2 separate regions of the Homo sapiens genome follow, and region 2 is linked to region 1. The links come from fine-mapping of genetic effects on gene expression. A gene starts in region 1. The other region holds a variant in brackets. All regions are shown on one strand. Distances are from middle to middle.

Region 1 (12,200 bases):
CCTGGTGACTGAGGAGGCCTCATCCCTAAGGTCGCTTGTCCGGTCTTCCTCCCCTTCGTCCCCCTCCTCCTCGCAGGGGGAGCTGGTCGGGCCCCGGCTCAGCTCATTCACCTCTGAGTCCTGGTCTTGGGATTTAGGCTCACTTGCCCGGTCCTCCTCGTCGGAGTGATTATCTTCCTCCTCCTGGCTCGGCCCCCTGGCTGCACTTTCCTCATCCTCCAGATCAGAAGCCCTCACCCCCGCCCCGTCCAAATCCTGATCGGACCCGCTGTCCCTCAGAATGTCATCGTCCGAGAGTCCCTGTGGCTGCTCTTCATCCTCTGGAGAGTGAGGATCCCGTTCAGGGCTCTCGGCCACATCCATCGGTACCCACGGTTCTGCAAAAGAGAGAATACAGATTGACAGCCTTTAGCAAAATGGAAAACAAACCTTGTCCCTACTTTCCTGGCCTGAAGCAGCAGGACTTCCATCCTGCTTGGTCCCACACGGCCCTGCCCCAAATCCCACACTCCACTCTGCAGAGAAAGACAGGCCATAACTCCACTCCACAAGGCTAGACTGCTCAGCTAAGCTGGGTGTTAAGTGCCTCCCGTTTTTGGCAATCTGGCAAAATGAGATGTGGCAGAAGGAGACGCAGCCTGGCCTAGCCCTTCCCCGCTCAAGGGCAGCCCACACGAGTTAACAGAAAGTGAGTAACGATACGGATCGCAAAGGACAGCTGTGTGAATTCTTAGAGGAGTATTTACTTTTGAAATTAAAGATAAACTGTATCATGGAACGAGGAAGCAAAACTGCAGGCCCAGATCTCACCATTTTTCTGGAGTCATCCTGAAGCAGGAACCTGGGCCAGCCTTCGGCAGTGTCCAAGTCTGGAGCCTTTTCTGTTACTGAACACACTTCTCGAAGGCCAGCCTCTGAGGGCCTCCGAGAATCCCTTGGCTGCCCTTTAGCAATGCAGGCTCAGAGCCCTGCCTGCGTGTTCACTGGCCCCTCCAGCAGGTGTCGAGAGGGCTGTGTTCACCCGCTCAGCAACTCACACTCCTAAGTTGAGAACCCCTCTTCCCATACAGGTAGCTGCTGTCGAAAAGAACTCTGGCAGGAAACTTGACACACTTAAGTACCGCGCGTATGTAAAAGACGAGGCTGGCCAGGTACGGTGGCTCGCATCTACAATCTCAGCACTTTGGGAGGTTGCAACGGGAGGATCATTTGAGCCCAGCAGTTCGAGACCAGCCTGGGCAACATGGTGAGACCCTGTCTCTGTAAAAAAAAAATACTAAAATTCAGGCCAGGCGCGGTGGCTCACACCTGTAATCCCAGCACTTTGGGAGGCCCGAGGCAGGTGGATCATGAGGTCAGGAGATCGAGACCATCCTGGCTAACACGGTGAAACCCCGTCTCTATGAAAAATACAAAAACTTAGCTGCACGTGGTGGCAGGCGCCTGTAGTCCCAGCTATTCAGGAGGCTGAGGCAGGAGAAAGGCGTGAACCCAGGAGGTAGAGCTTGCAGTGAGCTGAGATCGCGCCACCGCACTCCAGCCTGGGCGACAGAGTGAGACTCCGTCTCAAAACAAAAACAAAAACAAACAAACAAACAAAAACTAAGTCACAGAGTGTGGTGGTGCGTGCCTATATTCCCAGCTACTTGGGAGTCTGACGCAGGAGGATCGCTTAAGCCCAGGAGGTGGAGGCTGCAGTAAGCCAAGACTGCATCAATGTGCTTCAGCCTGGGCAACAGAGTGAGACCAATCTCCAAAAAAAACTCAAAAAACAAAAAAAGACGGGGTCACTTCAGACTTCATTCCTATTTTTACTAATCCAGATTAAATTATAAAGTTAATATTTTCGAGTTTCCCTCCTCAAAAACTCATAGAAAGTACACTGCTACCCATGCTTTAAAAGTGGACGGTGTTAAGACGGGTAGGAAGGTGTAGAACGGCAACACCTGCCTGGCAAACACTTGCCACACCACCACTACCAGGGCAGCTAGTCACCACCAAGTGAGTGTGGAGCAGCAGGGACAGTGCCAGGTCAGCGGTCACTTGACTGTTCAGTCTGTGAGGCTGTTAAAATAACGTATGTCACGGTCACACTGCTCGGCATCTCGGCAAGGTCTGGAAACAGATTATTCATCTCAAGATAACTACGGACGCAGCAAGTCATACACATACACATTTATATGTCTTGTATCTCAAATAACCATACACACTAAAGATAAAAATATTCATCTTTTAAATTTATACTTTTAATACAACCTGTTTAAAGATGCACAGTATCAAGAATTGGTATCAACCTACAGTTAAACATTTTTTTTTTTTGCTGTTAATGGAAATCATTAAGATTAAGTACACATTAGAGGCCGGGCACGGTGGCTCACGCCTGTAATCCCAGCACTTTGGGAGGCCGAGGCGGGTGGATCACGAGGTCAGGAGATCGAGACCATCCTGGCTAACACGGTGAAACCCCGTCTCTACTAAATATACAAAAAATTAGTCGGGTGTGGTGGCGGGTGCCTGTGTTCCCAGCTACTCGGGAGGCTGAGGCAGGAGAATGGCGTGAACCCAGGGGGCGGGGCTTGGAGTGAGCCGAGATCGCGCCATTGCACTCCAGCCTGGGCGACAGAGCGAGACTCCGTCTCAAAAAAAAAAAAAAAAGATACATTAGAACAAATTGGTCAGGTGCGGTGGTTCATGCCTGTAATCCCAGCACTTTGGGAGGCTGAGGTGGGCGGATCACTTGAGTCCAGGAGTTCTAGACCAGCTTGGGCAACATAGCAAAACCCCATCTCTACCAAAAAAAAAAAAAAAAAAAAAAAAAATTAGCTGGGTGTGGTAGGGCACCTGTCGTCCCAGCTACTTGGGAGGCTGAGATAGGAGGATCACCTGATCCTAGGAGGTTGAGGCTGCAGTTCAGCCTGGGTGACAGAGTGAGACCCTGACTCAAACAAAAAACAAAAAAGCCAAAAAAACCCAAATCTGGCCAGGCGTGGTGGCTCGCGTCTGTAATCCTAGCACTTTGGGAGGCCAAGGCAGGTGGATCATCCGAAGTCAGGAGTTCAAGACCAGCCTGGCCAACATGGTGAAACCCGGTCTCTACTAAAATACAAAAATTAGCTGGGCATGATAGCAGGTGCCTGTTATCCAAGCTACTTGGGAGGCTGAGACGAGAGAATCGCTTGAACCTGGGAGACAGTGGTTGCAGTGAGCCGAGATCACACCACTGCACTCCAGCCTAGGTGGTGGCTAAGCGAGACTCCGTCTCAAAAGAAAATTCAAATCATTTAAAATTCATCACTTTATAAAAACTAAATGGGCCAAGGGTGGTGGCTCACGCCTGTAATCCCAGCACTTTGGAAGACTGACGCGGGTGGATCACCTGAGGTCAGGAGTTCAGGACAAGCCCGGTCAAAATGGTGAAACCTTGTCTCTACTAAATATACAAAACATTAGCTGGGCATGGTGGTGGGCATCTGTAATCCCAGCTGCTCGGGAGGCTGAGGCAGGAGAATTGCTTGAACTCGGGGGGGCGGAGGTTGCAGTGAGCCAAGATTGTGTCATTGCTCTCCAGCATGGGCAAAAAGAGCAAAACTCCGTCTCAAAAAAAAAAACCTAAATGGTTAGCAATAACATAGATTTACAAACCAACCAATCCATTCCAAGTCACTTAAAAGCAGACAGTTCTGAAAATGATTCACTTTTTGGTTTTCTAAGTACACTATTCGGTTACTATCCAGAGACAGGACTACTGGGAGGAATTATTAAAAAGTCAGTCCTAAGCCAGGAGTGGTGGCATGTACCTGGAATCCCGGCTACTTGTGTGGTTGAGGTGGGAGAATCACTCGAGCCCAAGAGTTCGAGTCCAGCCTAGATAACATGGTAAGACCCTCGTCTTTTTATTAAAGGTAGTCCTAAACTGGTATACACTGCTGAAAATGGGAAAGTCAAGGAGCTGATCCCCAAACAGTATCACAGGGGCGCTTGATGCACAGAGCATTTCTGCAGCCCAAGGCAACAAAAGCAAGGATGAAAAGCACCAAGGCTGCTAAGGCCTCTACGCACTGACTGTTCAAGACTGGGAGTCTGCGTGGGGTTGTGGCAGTAAGTCACCGGTGGCAAACTGGCAATTCTCTCTCTTGCCTAGCTATCGACATTAGTAACACCCTATACTATCTTCGTACACTTTTTATTACAATGTATAAACATCTTCCTCATAGAAGGGCAGGTAGTTCACATCTCCCCAGCTGCCTAAGCGGAGCGCCTGGTGCCCAGTAGGATGCCCCAAGCTGAACCCAGACCTGAAATATGACAAATTCTGATTCTCATGTTTTATAGTTTAATGTCAACCTTGGAAACAAAGTGATCTCTTAAATAAACCAACTTTTATGCAAAACTAAATGTCTCCTCAAACTAGTTTTAAAAATCACACAATTGGCTGGGTGTGGTGGCTCATGCCTGTAATCCCAGCACTTTGGGAGGCTGAAGCGGGAGGATCACGAGGTTGGGAGTTCGAGATCACCTTGGCCAACACAGTGAAACCCCTGTCTCTACTAAAAATACAAAAATTAGCTGGGCATGGTGGCACGTGCCTGTAGTCCCAGCTACTCAGGAGGCTGAGGCAGGAGAATCACTTGAACCCAGGAGGAGGAGGTTGCAGTGAGCCGAGATCATGCCACTGCACTCCAGCCTGGGTAGCAGAGTGAGACTCCGTTTCAAAAAATAGTAATAAGGTGCTACGAAGGGAAACGTGGCCTCTTAAGTGTAGACAATGAAATGAGAAGTGTAGACAGGGGTGTCAGTAGAAGAGTCTCAACTGATACCCACGTTTGCAATTTGTGCTCAGTTTGGTCTTCTTACACTATCTATAACTGAAGATTTTCAGCACAATTTAGAACTAAATCCTTAGTCCTCTGATCCACCAGATGGGTGAACTTGCCTAAGGAATGAAATAACAAGTGCCCATCGTCCCGTCTCCGTTGCTTTCTGCATTTGGCAGATGATACTTGATAGATATTTGTTGAATACATGACAAAAAACTCGTTAATTGAGGAACTACCTGTTGCCTACCAGAAAGGAATTTAAAATAAGTGCCCAGGAGGAGGAGGTTGCGGTGAGCCGAGATCCTGCCACTGCACTCCAGCCTGGGCAACAGAGTGAGACTCCGTCTCAAAAAATAATAGTAATAATAAAGAGCAGGTGCTACCTCCCTTCCGAGCAGCCCCTCTGGGAGGATGCACAGACTCCAACGGCACTGCTGAAATGCAGAGCGTTTGGGGACCTTCTCATTGCGAATGACCTTCCAAGCCTAAAGAAGTCTTCTGGTATTCTTAGTGGTGGCAAATCTTCCTCCTCTCAAGCTAGTCACTTTGATAAAGTGCTGCAAGTCAGAGTCTCACCTGATAAGGTGAGCTACCAACCACGTAAGTAAACTTTTGGTCAAACCTGGAGGGTGACTATTGAATAAGACTGATTTTCCCATATGACTACATTTTTACTACCACAACAGGAGTTCTAAAGAGATTCTGGCAAAGAAGCACCGATGAAATACAAGCACATTTTGGGACAATTACTTTCAACAGAGCAGTACCTATTTGAATGCCTAAGTTCTGGTACATCTGGTTAAAATTCTGACTCATAACCTCATGGACTTAAAATATCTAAATGAACGTTATCAAGGTTGGTGACAGACCCCACGTGCAAAGTGACCAAGCGTGACCACTAAACTCCTTGATAAAGAGGTACTCACCTTGAGATGCTCTGTAGCTGTGACAAAATACAAATCTCTGTAAACACGATGTAGGCCATAGGTTAACTTACCTGTTTGCTTTCTGGAGTGACTCCACAAAGCTTTCTTACAATATTTCAGCATGTCCCACCTACAACGGGAGAGGAGTTTCCGGCTTTGGGACACATTTGACTGGTTCCAGGGCTGGCTGGGCTCCATACTGCCCTTAGATAGTAAAATTATCAGGAAAAGACTCTCCTCCCAAAGCTGGGAAGCGGGATTCAGCCGAGGTCAAACCTCACCCGGATAATCCCAACTACTGAACGGGAAAGGACTACTCTACAGACAACAGGCTGGAGGTGAGTCTAACAGGAGACATGATGAGCACCTTGCTACACCCCAAACGGTACTTCAGATGCCAAACACTCTCTTCTTCCATTTTCCCAAATGGGTCTGAAGAATGACCTACTCTTGCAAATGAGTTAGCGTTGTTCGAACAAAGCTCATTTAAAACGGCCACTCTACCCGGCAAACTCAGTTGTCATAAAGTATTCAGGAAAAATGTTTGGCAGGAGTAAGGCTGTTAAGTTTCAGTTCTTCCAGCATTATAGCTGCAGTTGGTCTATATAAAGGACCCAGCACCTCTGATCTCCTAATCCAAGGGGCAAGGAAGTTACATACTCCTAAGAGACCGGCGCGCGTCTTGGGGCAATCACTGCGCCCAACCTGTGCACACTTTGAAGCTGCGGAGCAAGTTCCAGGAGGTTCATAAAGAGCTCAAAGTTCTCCGAAGAGCCCAGCAGCAGCCCGGGATGACCTACTCTGGAGGTGAATCTGGGCGCCTCTCACCGCCCCTTAGCCGGCGGCACACATGTGCCACGCGAGTGGCCCGGAAGAGAAATGACAGCTTCAGGAAAATAAACTCTGCCGCGGGGCGCGGAGGCAGCGCGCGAGGAGCTCGGGCGCCCAGGGCGCCCCAGGACCGCGGGGCCGGCTTACGGACGGAACTCGGGGTGGTGCCTGTCTCAAGGTCCCCTTCCCTGGGCCCGAGGGCCACGCTTCGGCCGGTGGGTCCGCACGGCCGGAGGCGCGCCGGGCTCCCGGGCCTCCCTCCCGCGGCCGCCGCCGCCGCCTCGGCGGCCTCCTCCTCCCGCCGCCGCCGGCCCGGCCTCCCGCCGCCCTCCCGGCCCCAGCTAACCTCAGCGCTAGGGCGGAGAGGAGGCCACGGCTCCCCTGGAGTCGGAGCGGCGTGGAGAAGACGTCCCTTGGCCCTTCCGCTCTTCACAGGTTCTGGCTCCAGGCTCGACACGGGCGGAACAAACGGGCTCCACTACCCGCGGGGGCCGGCCATTGTGCGACGTCATCAGGCCGCGACGGTAGTCCTACGGCCGGCGGGCTTCCCTCCCTCGCCCCGCCCCCTCCAGCTTCCTTCCGGCCTCCGCGCGGTTCCGCCCCCGCAGCGCGCGCCCGGACCCGCGCGAGCCAGCCGAACCCCCGCTACAGCGCAGGCGCCACGGGGAGTTCGCTTCTCAGGCGGCGGGCGTGCGGATCCGCGCCTGCGCACAGAGCTCCCCGCGGCCGCCGGGTCACGTGACGGGGCTCCGGCTGGGCCGGCGGGTTCTTCATCCCCGGGGATGATCGAGTTCATCAAAGTGGAAAACTTAAGGCGGTCTTCGTCGGGCTGATACTTCCTGCTTTATTGAATGTTGATATTAAATGCTTACCTCCGGAATTATTTTTTGAGGTATCGACTTTAGATTAAAAGCCTAACAATTCTTACCTTTCCCGTGGGCTGCCTGGCTCCCCGCGCGGTTCAACGCGAGCAGCGCCAGTGAGGGGACCTGTCGCGTGTCCTGCTCAGCGCGGTGTCCCACGGGCGCGTCCACAGCCCGGGGCGTCCAGGGGCTGCAGCGGTGCGAGCTGCTCTAGAGACGGAGGGCCCGGCCGGAGACCAGGGGCCGGCGGTTTCATCCTGCGCTGACCCTTGCCAACGACGTGGCTGGTCCTGGGGATCACAGGGCTTCGCTCATCCCATCTTCCTCCATATCCCCAAGGTGGAAACAAGGGGGCGAGATGTCCACAAACTGAGGAACAGACAAAATGCTGGCTGTCCATGCAGTGGAGTGTGAGTCAGTCATCAAGAAGAGTGAAGTTCAGACCCATGCCACAACATGGGTGAACCTTGGAAACATACTAAGTAAAGCAAGCCAATCGCAAAAGGACAAAACCTGTGCGACTCCATGCTATGGACCGAGTTCTGTCCCCCTAACATTTGTATGTGAAGCCTTAATCCCCAATGTGACTGTGTTTGCAGAAAGGGCCTTTAGAGAAGTAATTAAGGTTAAATGAGATTATAAGGGTGGGGTCCTGATCTGATAGGATTAGTGTCCTTGGAAGAGGTACCACAGGCCTGGCACTGTGGCTCACACCTGTAATCCTAGCACTTTGGGAGTCCAAGGTGGGAGGACCACCTCCTCCAGGAGTTTGAGACCAGCCTGGGCAACAAAGCAAGACCCCTGTCTCTACAAAAAAATTAACAGGGCACCGTGGTGCGTGCCTGTAGTCCCAGCAACTTGTTATGGTTACGTAAGAGGAATGTGAATTCAACCCTGGTGATTTTGGGTCGTGTCAGGAGCAGCCCTGCGACACCAGTTGGCACCTTCTGCAGACTCTATGTGTCGATAAGACAAGGTCCCACCCAGCAAGTGCCCTTTTCTCAGCTGATGAACATAAGCCTGCATGGACGTTACTGTCCATGGAAAGGAGCGGCCGGCACCGGCTGTGACAGACACGTGCCTGTCTGCGATCTGAGTTTCATGAACAGTAAACTCTGTTGGTCACAGCCTCTTTGGAAAACAATGTTAGTTAAAAGAAGTGCCCTGTGACCAGCAGTGCCACCCTCGACAGGGTTCTCCAAGTGGGACCCGGGCAAGCAGCCTCAGTATCACTAGGGGTTGTTAGCAATGTGCCTTCCTGGGCTCTGCCCCAGAGTGGCCGCACCAGTGACTGGGAGTGAGGTCCCAGGGCCCTGTGGTCCATGAAGAGCTCTCAGGGGATTCTGATGCCCAGTGGTACAGGTGGGCCACCGGACTGGGGTGTCATCTGCCCGTGGGCATGAGACATGAACAAGGACATAGCAGGTCTGTTAGTAGTCATAACTAAAAGAACAAAGGAGCCGGGCACGGTGGCTCATGCCTGTAATCCCAGCACTTTGGGAGGTCGAGGCGGGCAGATCGCGAGGTCAGGAGATCGAGACCATGCTGGCTAACACAGTGAAACCCCGTCTCTACTAAAAATACAAAAAATTAGCCGGGCGTGGTGGCGGGCGCCTGTAGTCCCAGCTACTCGGGAGGCTGAGGCAGGAGAATGGCATGAACCCGGGAGGCGGAGTTTGCAGTGAGCCCAGATCATGCCACTGCACTCCAGCCTGGGCAACAGAGCGAGACTCCGTCTCAAGAAAAAAAAAGAACAAAGGAAAAAACCAGAAAACCACCCAGATGTTGATGAGCAGATGATTGTACTGTTGTAATAGTAATCTGGTACAACATTTGCAACATCGCGGTTGTTAAAAATGCTAACGCATGAACCTCCAGTGTGTATACACAGATATAAATAAACGGGTGAAGACCATCTGTGAGGTTGCATGACAAAGGCAAGTGCAGAAGCAGACAGGGTGGGCACATTTCTTTTCTTTCTTTCTTTCTTTTTTTTTTTTTTTGAGACAGAGTCTCACTCTGTCGCCCAGGCTGGAGTGCAGTAGCGCCATCTCGGCTCCCTGCCACCTCCGCCCCCTGGGTTCAAGCGATTCTCCTGCCTCAGCCTCCCGAGTAGCTGGGACTACAGGCGCCCGCCACCACGCCCGGCTAATTTTTTTGTATTTTTAGTGGAGACGGGGTTTCACCGTGTTAGCCAGGACGGTCTCGATCTTCTGACCTCGTGATCCTCCCGCCTCGGCCTCCCAAAGTGTTGGGATTACAGGCGTGAGCCACTGCGCCCGGTCCACGTTTCTATCAAATTGAAATCATGAGCGGTTTTGCTGAGGGTGTGGGGCACCCAGAGCCTGCGGCCTGTGCTCGAGTGAAAATGGTGGCCCCGCTCCAGAAGCCTGCGACGGCGCTCACGGAACCGCAGCCTTCGTGCGGCGGCACCTGGGCCGTGCTACTCCTCTGTGACTTCCCGGAAGAGATGAGCTGCTACGTCCAGCAAAAGGCACATCCAAGATCGTTCACCCCAGCATGACTCGTTACACTCCGGACTAGAAGGAACCCCAAGGTGCTTCAGTGACAGAACGATGAACCAGCTGGGGTGTAACCCCCATGCAATGGAATATCGTACAGGAACGAAAAGGACACGCTACCCCTACAAGCAACATGGATCTCAGAGGCAGGATGTTGCGCAGAAGAAACCAGACACAAATGCTTCGGCTCGTGTTGCTGCGACTCATTACAGGCAGCCGAATCTGCGGTGATGGGGGCCCCAGGAGCAGTGACCAGGAGGCAGTGCCACGGAGCCTGCGGTGGGGGCTGATAGTCAGTAGCGTGACCTGGTTGGGATGTTCTGTTTTTAAGCTGGAGTCCATCATGTTTGTTTATTTGTTCATTTCGTAGAGGTGGGGGTCTTGTAGAGGTGGGGGTCTCACTCTGTTGCCCAGGCTGGTCTCAAACTCTGGGCCTCAAGCGATCCTCCCACCTTGGCCTTCCAAAGTGCTGGGATTACAGGTGTGAGCCACTGCATAAGGCCGTTATTGTTATTAGTGCTTAAAAATATTTAGTAAACATTTTATTTAGCCTAAAAACCATTCAGAGAGCAGAGGCTGGATGGAACACGGCGTGCCAGGCGGTGAGAGCACAGACCCTCCTCTTCCAGAGCAGGAAGTGGGTAAATGACTTTTAAGCCTCATTTCTGGGGTGGCAAAACTCTTCTGTATGAAGAAGTACAAATATGTAATGTCCCATAATGGCAGCTATGGGACGTTACGTATTTGCCAAAACCCACATAACGCACAACGCCAAGAGTGAACTGTAATGTAAACTGTGGACTTAAGTCAATGATCGTGTCCCGATACGGGCTGGTTGGTTGTGATGCAGGGCAGGTGAGGCCCAAAGTGGAGCTTAGCCTGCCAGCGTTCTTGGCTTTGCCCAAGAAAGAATTCAAGGACAAGCCGGAGGTAGAAGAGAACAACTTGATTGAAGAGGCAGTGTGGCAGGTCCGTGACGGCTCCTGCAGAGCTGGGCTGCCCAGAAGGCAGAGAGCAGCAGCTCAACGCACTTCTGCAGACCCATTATACCCACTTTTAATTACATGCAGATTAAGGGGCAGTTTATGCAGAAATTTCTGGGGAAGGAGTAGTCACTTCTGGGTCACTGAGTCATTGCCATGGAAAGGGGTGGGAGTGTTGCCATGGCGATGGTAAACTGACACAGAACACTGGTGGGTGTGTCTTTTTTTTCTTTTCCTGAGACGGAGTCTCCCTCTGTCACCCACATTAGAGTGCAGTGGCCTGATCTCGGCTCACCACAACCTCTGTCTCCTGGGCTCAAGCAATTCTTCTGCTTCAATCTCCTGAGTAGCTGGGGCTGCAGGCATGGGACATCATGCCTGGCTAATTTTTGTATTTTTAGTAGAGACAGGGTTTCACCATGTTGGCCAGGCTGGTCTCAAACTCCTGACCTCTGGTGATCTGCCTGCCTGGGCTCCCAAAGTGCTGGGATTACAGGCATGAGCCACTGCGCCCAGTCTGGTGTGTCTTATAAAAAGCTGCTTCTGCCCTGCCCTGTTTTAGCCAGTCCTGTTTGGTCCCAGCTCCAAGCCCTGCCTCTGGAGTCAAGTCCTGCCTCCTATCTCAATTGTAATAAATGTTCTGCACCAGTGCAGGGTGTTAATAAGAGGGGAGATGGGCAGGGGTGCTGGGGGTACAGGGGAACTCTGCTCATTTTTCTTTTTTTTTTTTGAGATGGAGTCTCACTCTGTTGCCCACCCTGGAGTGCAGTAGCGCAATCTCGGCTCACTGCAAGCTCCACCTCCCAGGTTCACGCCATTCTCCTCAGCCTCCCGAGTAGCTAGGACTACAGGCGCCCATCACCACGCCTGGCTAATTTTTGTGTATTTTTTAGTGGAGACGGGGTTTCACCATGTTAGCCAGGATGGTCTCGATCTCCTGACCTCGTGATCCACCCGCCTCAGCCTCCCAAAGTGCTGGGATTACAGGCGTGAGCCACTGTGCCTGGCCTCTCATTTTTCTTTAAACCTAAAACTGGTCTAAAAAATTAATTTCATATTTTTTTTTTCACAAGAATGTGGAGCAACTAGAATCACGTACTCTGCTGCTGGGAGTGTGACTAGTGCCCTTATTAAGAAAAAGTCAAGAAACATTGGTATGAATATTACTGGAGATCGGGAAAATGCCGGAAGAGACCATGAAAAGAGTTAAAACTTGTTGCCAATTGGGGGTGGAAACTGGGAGGGAAGAGGCAGGAAG
Region 2 (12,200 bases), 24 kb before region 1:
AGATGCTCTTTGTGACAATCATAGGGGGGTCTCCACCCTCCTGGCAGAACCCTGACAGTTCTTTCCACTGTGTCTATCAGAAACAGCCAGGGCACCTCGCCACTGTGACACATGCACCCTGACCCTGTTCCCAGAGGTCCTGACTCACCAGGTCTCGGGGGAGGCATGGCACAAAAGGCCTCAGGTTAACTGTAACATACACAGAGGCTACTCTATAAAAACAAACAAAATACAAACATACAGAAATACCTGGCTTTCAGACACCAGTGAAAACCTTTCAGCCCTGACTGCCGAGACTTTAACATTTGGGGGTCCTGCAGTGTAGATACCGGCTCCTGGGAGAGAAGCTAGGGAGCCAGGAGCCAGCTTCTGTCACCTGGTGCCAGGATGGGAGACACCTGTTTCTGTAACCAACACTGATAGGTAAAACACACACAGAGGGCACTCCAAAAAACCTCAGAGACCTGCCGAACCACTTCCAAGCAGGCAGTTTTCCGGTCCCTGCTCCAGCCAGGGAAACTGGAAATAGAGTGTCAAGGATCACGCCCAGGTTCTAAAATCCATCCTTCCCCACACATATTTATAGAGACCTCTGTGCACACGAGCTCTGGGGAAGGAAAGACGATATCCACATCTAACAAAAAAACACAAAGGCCTCCAGGGCTTCAGGAGACACCCCTGGTGATCCTGCAGAGTTCTGACTCAAATGCTCCTTTCTGTGATCTGACATTCCACACAAAACTTAATTAGAAAATGTACATGTTAACCAAGTCTTTAAATACCTATCCCTTTAACCTCTAAGCTCTCACCTGCTGGGGCAGGTGTGGGCCACTGGGGCTTCCTCCCCCAACTTCCGCAGGCGGAAAGCCCAGGGTAGCCTGCTCGCGGCAAGAAGGCCTTGAGAAGGGCCTTGCAGGGCCAAGTCGACAGGACCAAATCCTGGAGTGCAAGCCCTGCACGCCTTCCTTTTTTGAGCACCGTTTATTGTCACTCCAGATAGAAATCATAGTGATTATGATTCCCTAATAGCAACCAGAAATGTACAGGGCTGCTAAAGCCTCAGCATGATGGAGTGCCAATTCAGATCTGCCCGAATTATAATCCAGTTCCCTGCCCTGAACCTCACCGTGCCATCCACAGGCAGAGGAAAACAGCACTTTATATGCCATGCAATCCCCCAAGATCTGACTTCCACCCTTCGACCCAGGCACTTCTTCTGTTAAGACAGGATTTTTAAAGACCAGGCATAAAGGGGCTGGGTGCAGTGGTTCACGCCTGTAGTCCCAGCACTCTGGGAGGCAGGCGTGGGTGGATCACTTGAGGTCAGGAGTTCGAGACCATCCTGGCCAACATGGTGAAATCCATCTCTACTAAAAACACAAAACTGAGTTGGGTGTGGTAGCAGACACCTGTAGTTCCAGCTACTCAGGAGGCTGAAGCAGGAGAATCACTTCAACCCAGGGAGGCGGAGGTTGCAGTGAGCCAAGATTGCGCAACTGCACTCCAGCTTGGGCGACAGAGCAAGACTCTGCCTCGGGAAAAAAAACCAAAAAACAAAAACCAGCCATCAATGCCCTGGAGGAGAAGCAGTGAAGGCAGAACAGCCCTGACAGCGAAGAGGCCGCAGCTGTTGTGTTCCTGGCTTGTGGCAACCTCCACACGTTTCCTGGCTCCTGGGTAATGTGGGCAGGGGTGAGGAGCCAGAAACACAGACTTGTGGGGCTCTAGAGGCCTCAAGGACAGCAGCGAAAACTCTCAGAGCTCAGGAACCACAACGGTGTGAGTGCTGCCAGTCAAGGCCCATGGCACAGAGCCCTAACGCTTCCTTCCTAGAAGCAAAAAACTGAGATGAGCTCTGAGAACCGTGCCTGAATGCTCTCAGGAACGTCACTGAGACTCCAGTGAGTGGGGCTGGGTCTCAGCCGAGCGCACCCTGGGGCCCTGCACATGGCTGCTCTCTCCGGAGCGTGGCCGCATGCAGGAAGGAAACGGAGGGGCAGGCAGGGCCATTCCTTACACTGTGTCTCTGACATCTCTCGGGATCCGAGAATTCCAATCTCGAAAAACTTCATTTTCTTTGTCAAATTCCCGTTCGTCTTCGCCAATGGTCACCGTAAACCTTTTCTCTTCAAAATCAGGCTCCTGTTCTTTTCGAATAGTTGCTTTTTTTAAAACCTACCATTGTAAGAAGAAAGAAGTCAACATGGAACAGAATACCGGGCGTCGCTGTTAGGAAACACAAAGGGAGCCGTCCCACCCGACCGCAGCAGCCCTGCAGGAGCAGGAGCTGCACGCTGCAAGTGCTCAAGGGGTGAGGGGCGGACACAGCACAGTTGTCCTTCTGGGGAGGGCAGTCTGTGCCCGTCTCTGCACAAACAGCTGCCCCCGGCCTCCGTGTGCCCACATGAGGTGTTCATCACTTCCTTCAACTACCCTTGGAACTAGATCCAGGGTTCAGTCACTCAGTGACAAGCAGCAGGTGGAGTGGCTGGAGTCTCAGAGGGAAGGAAGTGACATGCCGAGGGAGTGAGAAGGAACATCTTGTCCGTCATTTCCCAGCAGGGAGGCTGACCAGGAAAATGAGGAAGTGGGGCTGGGTGCCAGCAGAGTGGTCCCCAGAGCTGAAGCTCACACACTGGGGCCAACGTGGGCCTAGAGGGAGGAAGTGTGCAGTGATAGGACCAGAAAGCTCCAAGTTTTCTCCAGGAAGAGCAGACACTGAGTCTCAGGAGTGTGGGGTGCAGATCCTGGGGGTGCGGCTCGGGCAGCCTCGCCAGGCTTTCTGTGAGTGGCTGGAGACTGCACCCTGTGCTCCTGGGCAGTGCCAGCTGGGGTGTGGCCCAGTGCTGATCCAGCCCCATGAAGACAGTGGGTATGCCCTGGACTGAACTCCCTGGCCTACTGGGCTGCTGCCTGAGACAGTTAGATATAACTCTCCATCCTTCCGGGCCTGGTGGCGCATGCCTGTAATCCCAGCTACTTGGGAGGCCGAGCAGGAGAATCACATGAACCTGGGAGGCGGAGGCTGCAGTGAGTCGAGTTTGGGCCATTGCACTCCAGCCTGGGCAACAAGAGTGAAACTCTGTCTCCAAAAAAATAAATAAATAAAAAATAAAGAAAGACACCACAGAAACAGACGCCTAACTTCAGAGATTTCTGGGGCTCTCTCTGGACCGAGGAAATCCCAGTTTTGTCAAGAACCACTCCTGTAATAGCATCTTTCTTGTCGGGATTTCTGCTGAATTGTGTTTACCTCCTTTGCATGCCGGAGTCCTCGTTCCCAGGCACTCTCTGTTGGGGGCTCTGGAGGGGGTGGAGGCAAAATTTCATCAACTACCGGCCCACCCTATTGAAAAACGAGAAGGGAGAAGGTGAGAAAGTAAAACTTTCAAGTGTACAGAGAAACCAGACAGTAAAAACATCAACTACAACACAAGCCGGCCGTGTGTGGCCGCTCTCCTTCCACCAAGCCTCACTCCGTCCTCGGAAAGCCGAGGCCTGCTTCCACTCGGGACGACAGAAGCAGCCGAAAGGGGGCACTGAGCCTGTGCTAAGGCACAGTGACTTGTCTTAAGCTTGAGATTCAGACACAGCTCAGTTGGCTGATGTGCTAACAATGAAAGAAGAGGCATCACGCACCCAAGGGTTGGCGGGCATCAGCGGGTGAGGTCCGAGAGGCGGGGCACCATTAGGCGGGAAGGGGTCGGCTTTGGTGATTAGGGAGTAGTTCCCCTTGTCGTTCACTCCAGGGTGTATAAACCTACAATTCATTCCCCAGGTACAGTTCCCTATGGAAACAAAAGTGAGATCAGAAAGGGTCCACAAGAGCCTAATTGCACAAGGGCAGCTGCTGGGGTGGGGGGTGGGAGGGGGCAGAGGCCATGTTTACCCAGGCCTGATGGCGAGCCACACAGTAGTGGGAACTGAACGGGGAGGTGGGCGGGATGAGCCTGGAGAGGCTGAGCCAGACAGCTGCACCTGCCCAGGCACGGCAGTTCCCCAGAGGCTGCCAGGCACCTCGGTCAGAGTGACCACAAAGTCACTTTGTGGAGAGTTCACGCGTATCAACTGTCTGAGTATTAATTTTCCCCTTAAACCAGAAAAGCCCCAGAGCTTTGCTTCCAGCCCTGGCCCAGGCTCATCTAGGTACAACTGGATGTTAATTGTATTTGTGCCGAAACAGACATCAATGAGAAGCATTAACAATGATCAGAAGCCTGCAGGTGTGCTCAGGGTCCCCTTGGCCACCTCTGTACGTCTGCATTTCTCTCACAGAGAAAACTCTCACAGGGCATTTCAAGATATTTCTGGAACTGAAACGGGCTTTTACACTTTGCTCATAAATAACAATCACAAACCTTCATCTTCAACAGAATATCCGGGTTAGTAAAGGAGACCTCGACTTTCAAGTGTAGAATATAAGACATCTAAGTGTCTAACTCAATTACTGAGTGAATCACTTTTTTAAAATGTACTTTTTTGGGAATAGATAATGTGTACACATTGTTTAAAACCAAATATGGCATATAGTATCTAAGCGGTTTAAAAATTTTTTTCAATGGGTTAACATGCAGTTAGATTTTAAATCATTTAAAATTTTAACCTTAAACATCAGGAACACTTAAGCCTGCATTAAAACCAACTCAATACAACATAATAACAATATCGATCCAAATTAAACACGAAAGAAAACTTAAAACTGCTTCTCTGGAAATGCAAAAATGACAAGTAATTTTTAAAATTTCTAAAAGCATTTCAGAGATCACACATAAGTCAAACGAAGTTGGGAGGCCAGGCGTGGTGGCTCACGACGTCAAGAGATCAAGACCATCCTGGCTAACATGGTGAAACCCCGTCTCTACTAAAAAATACAAAAAATTAGCCGGACGTGGTGGCAGGTGCCTGTAGTCCCAGCTACTTGGGAGGCTGAAGCAGGAGAATGGCGTGAACCCAGGAGGTGGAGCTTGCAGTGAGCCGAGATCGTGCCACTGCACTCCAGCCTGGGCAACAGAGCGAGTCTCTCTCAAAAACAACAACAAAAAACAAAAGAGGTTGGGAAATGTTATTCTATAGGGGGTTCAAAAATCCAGAG[C/T]CTCAGAGAGATTTAAAGAAAAACTGACTATGCAGTCATCCATCTGAGACTCAACACACTACAGAGCTCTTCATGGTTTGCCTCTGAAAATACTCATGCAGTATTCAAAATCACGTGTGTAACTAAACAAGTAACAAAAGCTCATTGTAAAAAATGTCCAAGTACAGAAAAGTGCTGACAATAGAAACCACAGCTTTTCTGTACTCCTTTTCCTTTTTTTTTCAGATGGAGTCTCACTCTGACTGAGTGAGACAGTCCCAGGCTGGAGTGCAATGATGCAATCTCGGCTCACTGCAACCTCCACCTCCTGGGTGTCAGTGATTCTCCTGCCTCAGCCTCCTGAGTAGCTGGGATTACAGGCGGGTACCACCATGCCAGGCTAATTTTTGTATTTTTAGTAGAGACGGGACTTCACCAACTTGGTCAGGCTGGTCTCGAACTCCTGACCTTGTGATCTGCCAGCCTCGGCCTCCCAAAGTGCTGGGATTACAGGCGTGAACCACCACACTCGGCCTCTGTACTTCTTTTTCATCTAAAATATGTATCTGGGTGGTGGCTAAATGTTATCGTTCTTTTCTGTATTTATGAAAATTTTTAGGACATCACCTACGAACCTACTATCAAAAAAGATCCTTTCTCACTGATATTGGCATGGGGAGAAAAGAGGAACAAGGCAGAAGAGAACAAACCAGTGAGCGCCAAAGAGCAAGCTGAGAAGGCGAGCGTGGGGCTGCCACTAGAGACCAGACACTAGTGGGTGACAGTGTTCAGCTCTCGGGAGCCACCTGCCCGGGGGTGCTGAGCGCTGTCCTGCCCCTGGCCAGAGTAAAGGGGAAGATGGCTCTGGAAAGCAGCACAGTTGGTCTGCACGTCTAGCTGGGACACACTTCCAGCAGACGTCAGGCAGAAAGAACACCATTGTCCCATCTATCTTTTTAAAATGTGAACTTTTATCTGTGTAGGAACACACCCAACTGTCGGGAATGTGGGAAGGGGCTTTAGATTTTATTTTCTTGCCTTCTGCCAGCCCATATTACTTTCTTTCCTTTTTTTAATTTTTTTTTTTTTGAGATGGAGTCTCGCTCTGTTGCCCAGGCTGGAGTGCAGTGGAGCGACCTAGGCTCATTGCAACCTCTGCCTCACAGTTCAAGCAACTCTCCTGCCTCAGCCTCCCGAGTAGCTGGGATTACAGGTGTGCACCACCAAGCCCGGCTAATTTTTGTATTTTTAGTAGTGACAGGGTTTCGCCATGTTAGCCAGGCTGGTCTCAAACTCCTGAAGTCAGGTGATCCGCCCACCTCGGCCTCCCAAAGAGCTGGGATTACAGGTGTCAGCTACCGTCCCCAGCCTTACTTTCATAATTTAAAAAGCAATTTGTTAAAAAAAAAAAAAAAAAAAAGAAAGAAAGAAATTATCCAGAAAATAGAAGCAACAATAAAGATCTTCTGGTTTACAAATGGGACTTCAAACCCAAAATTTATGTGGATTGTGATTCTAACAGTATAAAGATAGTTCTGCGGATACTGTGTACACAGACATGGCCTCAGGCCAGAAGAGGACAAGGAGGGACAGAGGCCGCTGGAGCGGGGCGGAGGCGGCCCCTCCACTGCTGAAATGTCTAAGTACTATTTCTGGCTTCAAGACAGGATGATGGTCTTTTTCTTAACTGGAATGTCGGCACAGCAGCAACTGGTTTTTCTTTTGTTTTGTTTTTGTTTTTTTGAGATGGAGTTTTGTTCTTGTTGCCCAGGCTGGAGTGCAATGGCACAATCTCAGCTCACTGCAACCTCCGCCTCCCAGGTTCAAGTGATTCTCCTGCCTCAGCCTCCCGAGTAGCTGGAATTACAGGCATGCACCACCACGCCTGGCTAATTTTGTATTTTTAGTAGAAACGAGGTTTCTCCATGTTGGTCAGGCTAGTCTTGAGCTTGCGACCTCAGGTGATCCGCCCGCCTCGGCCTCCCAAAGTGCTGGGATTACAGGCATGAACCACCACGCCCAGCCAACTGTTTTATTCTCTTATTAATCTTTACGCTTGTGTAAACACTGTATTATTTTATATATATGAAATATTTCATAATCAAATGAAATACTTGTAAATAAAAAATACCCACCCACTCTAAAAGGTACACTGTGAAGTTGACCACCTATCCCATGCCTCCAGGGCCATTCCCAGAGGCAGTTATCAATATACTGGGGCTCCATCCATCAATCATTGCCCCCTTTTACCTGAGCATATATATTATGCTCTGTGCTGAACCTTGCTTTTTTTCACTAAACAATGTAACTACAGAAAGGGAACCTGCATGCTCAGTAGCAACCAACCCAAACTGGATCAGGGAAACAGACAGGAAACAGATAGGAAACATGGAAAATCCGGAAACTAAACACAGAGGTGGCAGGAACTGAGGCTCAGCTCATGCTCCAGCACAGCCCACACATGAAGTATCTTTAAATGTCTCTTCTGATTTTGAATACAGTAAATATCAATTCCCTGTGTTTACTTGGTTTATATGTGTCATTTCTATTGATACGTACGATATTAGAAATTAAGAGACACTTAAAGATATCTCATTATTTAACAATAACAAGATATCCAATATATAGTAACAAATATTTATGAAACTGTTTTTAAAATATTTGGTGAGAGGAATAGCATTCTTTGCCTTTTTGCGAATCTCTTGAATGCTGACCCTGGAAAACCCCTGGCCTCCCATCTGCATGCGATCGACCATGAAGGGCCGCTGTGGCTCAAGCAGGAGAGGACATTACAGCCCCAGGAAGAGATGCAGCTAGAGAGGGAGGGGCATCTAAAAGCCTTTTCAGTGTGCTCAGAGCTTCTCCCTGACACCGCACTCAGCAAGGGAAGGCTCCTTACAGCGAGCTGCAATTGAACCCTATCACCACACTTTTCCAACTTGGTTCTTCTGAAATCCATTGGTCTATCTTGAACTTTGAATGGGTCTTTTACCCAGGCATGATTCTGTGACATCCTGCAATGGTCACCTGAGAAAGTCCTGACACACTGAGAAGCTGGTGAGCACACAAAAGTCCAATTTTCAACTGAAAGCTCCAATTTTAATACTGCTAACACTGTCCGTTGTTCTCCTTGAAGCCACAGGCTCACTTTGTTCCTGCCAGGACCCGGATCTGCATTCCCTGGCATGTCTGCCAGTCTTTCTCATCAATGTGTGCTCCACGGAGAGCGCACAGGGTCAGCCGCAGCTCCAGCCTTGCACGTGCTGCCCCTTGAGGCCGCTGGACTTGGGTGCCGGCAGGGGCTCTACCCACGCTGCCACTCCACCACGCTGAGTACTGAGACACACACAGAAGCTCTGCTTTCTGGCTTTCCACAGTTTCAGTTACCTGCGTCTGAAAATACTAAATCGAAAATTCCAAAAATAATTCCTAAGTTTTAAATGATGTTCTGTGCTGAGCAGCGTGATGAAATCTTGTGCCGACCTCCTCTGCCCCACCTGGGACACGAATCATCCCTTTGTCCAGCAGATGCAAGCTGTCCACGACGCTAACTGCCCACTAGTCACTTAGCAGCCCTCTTGGCCAACAACCGTTGGGGGTACGGCGGTGCTGTGCTCACTGTGGCTCAGTGACCCAGGATCACTGGGGGCAGGTGACCTTCCTTCTGACGCATTGGCAGGAGGTCAAGGGGGGCCCAATGCTAAGTGGCAGGGCCTCCGTGTCATCATGCGAGCATATTTCATCCCACGTCATCAGATGGCTGAGTGGCTGAGTGCAGTAAAGTGAGCTCTTTTGAGAGATCACATTCACATTTTTATTACAATTGCTCTATTTTATGATTGGCTATTGTTGTTAATCTCTTACTGTGCGTAACTTATAAATTAAACTTTATCATAGGGATATGCTTATATAATCATGGAACTGTACACTTAAAATGGGTCAATTTCATGGCACATAAATATTACTTTAATAAAGTTTTTTAAAAAGAACTTACGAATAATAAAAATAAATAATACATCTGTACACAAGTGTAAGATTTAATTAAATTACAGTTCTTACTACTACAGCACAGACATGAAGTAAAGTGGCATTCGAAATGCCAGTGCATGGTGAATGCCTGGCTCAGCCTTACTGTTATTATAAATATAGTTTCGATTTGGGAGGCCAAGGCGGTCGGATCATTTGAGGTCAGGAGTTCGAGACCAGCCTGACCAACTGAAACACAAAATTTAGCCACTACTAAAATACAAAAATTAGCCAGGCATGGTGGCATGCGCCTGTAATCTCAGCTACTCGGGAGGCTGAGGCAGGAGAATCGTTTGAACCCGGGAGGTGGAGGTTGCAAGTGAGCTGAGATCACGCCATTGCACTCCAGCCTGGGCAACAGAGGGAGACTGTATCTCACAAAAGTAAAATAAAATGAAAGAAAAAGAAAAATAAATAAATATAGTTTTGACCTCAGGGTCCCCTGAAAGGGTCTCAAGGACTCCCAGGGGTTCACAGATGACACTCAGACCTGCTGCTTTAAACACAGTTTTGCAAGGATTCAAAACTGAGCAAAAGACATTTCTCCAAGAAGATACACAAATGACCTATTAAGCACATGAAAAAAGACACCCCACCACCCATCTTCAGGAAAGGCAGATCAAAACCCAGTAAGATATTACCTCCTACCCACTGAAATGGCTACTATCAAAAAAAAACAGAGAACAGAGTAATGGTGAGGACGTGGAGAAACTGGAAGCCCCCACACCACTGGTGGGAAAGTAAAATGGCACAGCCACTGTGGAAGACAGCTTGGCGGCTCCTCAAAACATGAAACATACAACCACCAGGTCATCAGCAACTCCACTGCCAGCGGCTCCGCAAAAGATGAAACACACAACCACCAGGTCATCAGCAACTCCGCTGCCAGCGGTTCCTCAAAAGATGAAACATACAACCACCAGGTCATCAGAAACTCCGCTGCCAGCGGTTCCTCAAAAGATGAAACACACAACCACCAGGTCATCAGCAACTCCACTGCCAGCGGTTCCTCAAAAGATGAAACACACAACCACCACGTCATCAGAAACTCCGCTGCCAGCAGTTCCACAAAAGATGAAACACACAACCACCAGGTCATCAGCAACTCCACTGCCAGGCACATGCGAAAGAGCTGAAAGCAGGGTCTGAAGAGATTTTTACGCCCACGTTCACAGCAGCTCTATTCACAATTGCCTAGAGGTGGAAACCACCCAAGTGTCCACCCACAGATGAGGGAAACACCCAATGCAGCTGCTCCACACTAACAAATATTGGTCAATCTTTTTTTTTTTTTTTGGAGACGGAGTCTCGTTCTGTTGCCCAGGCTGGAGTGCAGTGGTGTGATCTTGGCTCACTGCAACCTCCACCTACTGGGTTCAAGCGATTCTCCTGCTTTGGCCTCCCAAATAGCTGGAATTAGAGGTGTGCTCTACCACCCCCAGCTAATTTTGTATTTTTAGTAGAGACAGGGTTTCACCATGTTGAGCAGTCTGGTCTCGAACTCCTAACCTTGAGTGATCCACCCACCTCGGCCTCCCAAAGTGCTATGATTACAGGCATCAGCCACCGCACCTATTATTCAGTCTTAAAAAGACAGAAGGCCAGGTGCAGTGACTCACGCCTGTAATCCCAGCACTTTGGGAGGCCGAGGAGGGCAGATCACGAGGTCAGGAGATCGGGACCATCCTGGCTAACACAGTGAAACTCCGTCTCTACCAAAAACTACAAAAATTACCTGGGCGTGGTGGCGGGCGCCTGTAGTTCCAACTACTCAGGAGGCTGAGGCAGGAGAATGGCGTGAACCCAGGAGGCAGAGCTTGCAGTGAGCCGAGATGGTGCCACTGCACTCCAGCCTGGGTGACAGAGCAAGACTCCATCTCAAAAAAAAAAAAAAAAAGTATTCCACCACAATTTTAAAAAATTAGGGGGAGCACAGCCAAGGAGATCAGACCCAAAAAATGGACTGGGATGCTTGTTCACTGAGGGATAAATCAGAAGCCCAAAGTAGGGGCCGGGTGTGGTGGCTCACACCTGTAATCCCAGCACTCTGGGAGGCTGAGGTGAGCGGATCACCTGAGGTCAGGGGTTCGAGACCAGCCTGGCCAACATGATGAAACCCCATGTCTGCTAAAAATACAAAAATGAGTTGGGGGTGGTGGCAGATGCCTGTAATCGCAGCTACTCGGGAGTCTGAGACAGAAGAATAGCTTGAACCCAGGTGGAGGTTCCAACGAGCCGAGATCTCACCATTGCACTCCAGCCCGGGTGACAGAGCGAGACACTGTCTCAAAAAAAAAAAAAAAAGAAATAAAGAAACCCAAAGTGGGACACAGTTTAAAGAAGATGCTACTTACTCCTCTGTGGACAGAACTTTGTGTCCTGATGATCCAACACAGGCCCACGAGAGATAAAAACATCCCATGAAGAAGTACAGCTCCAGTTGTAGTGTATGTGCTGTGGAGCCGGGCAGGCGTACACAAAGCACTGATCTCTAAAATGTGAGCAAGGTGTGTTCCCAGTGCATTTTGCTGTCATTTGGTCACAAATCTCAATGTGTCCACTAAGCGATTAAATGATTAATCTCTATATCACAACGTGTCGGAGATAAAGCTAAGAGAGGCCTGAGCAGTGGCTCATGCCTGTCATCCCCATACTCTGGGAGGCTGAGGTGGAAGGATTGCTTGAGCCTAGTATTTGAGACCAGCCTGAGCAATATAGTGAGATCCCATCTCTACAAGTAATTTAAAAAAGAAAGATGAGCTCTTGCAATGTTGCCCAGGCTGGTCTCTAACTCCTGGGCTCAAGTGATCCTCCCCATTCAGCTTCCCAAAGTGCTAGGATTCCAGGTATGAGCTACCATGCCCAGCCACCGACTTTTTTCTAAGAAAAGAATTTTCTAATTGTGACACAATTCACATAACATAAAATACTCCCATTTAATGTGTACAATTCACTGGTTTGCAGTATATTCACAAAGTTGTGTAAGCATCACCACTAGCTAGTTCTAGAACATTCCATCACCCCAAAGAGGAAATCCTGTACTCACTAGCTATCACTCTCCACCCCCAGTCCAGGCAACGAGGAATCAATCTACTTTCCGTCT

What was found.
Region 2: its variant is fine-mapped to the expression of ZC3H18 in whole blood (INTERVAL, PIP 0.97).

Annotation. Positions count from the first base shown.
Region 1 is chr16:88,565,287-88,577,486 of GRCh38, reverse strand. It overlaps ZC3H18 (zinc finger CCCH-type containing 18), which reads right to left and starts at 7,084. Exons shown (of 18, transcript NM_144604.4): 1 at 6,921-7,084; 2 at 1-377. The coding sequence starts at 363. RefSeq lists enhancers at 6,494-6,543, 7,634-7,683, 7,794-7,903 and silencers at 6,814-6,883, 7,064-7,393.
Region 2 is chr16:88,589,766-88,601,965 of GRCh38, reverse strand. ZC3H18 (zinc finger CCCH-type containing 18) reads right to left here. Exons shown (of 18, transcript NM_144604.4): 4 at 3,640-3,788; 5 at 3,254-3,346; 6 at 2,018-2,175. Among named protein-coding and RNA genes, the nearest start is that of ZC3H18, 25 kb to the right of the region's middle. RefSeq lists enhancers at 10,006-10,255, 12,151-12,200. The variant C/T (reference allele first, on the strand shown) is at 5,093.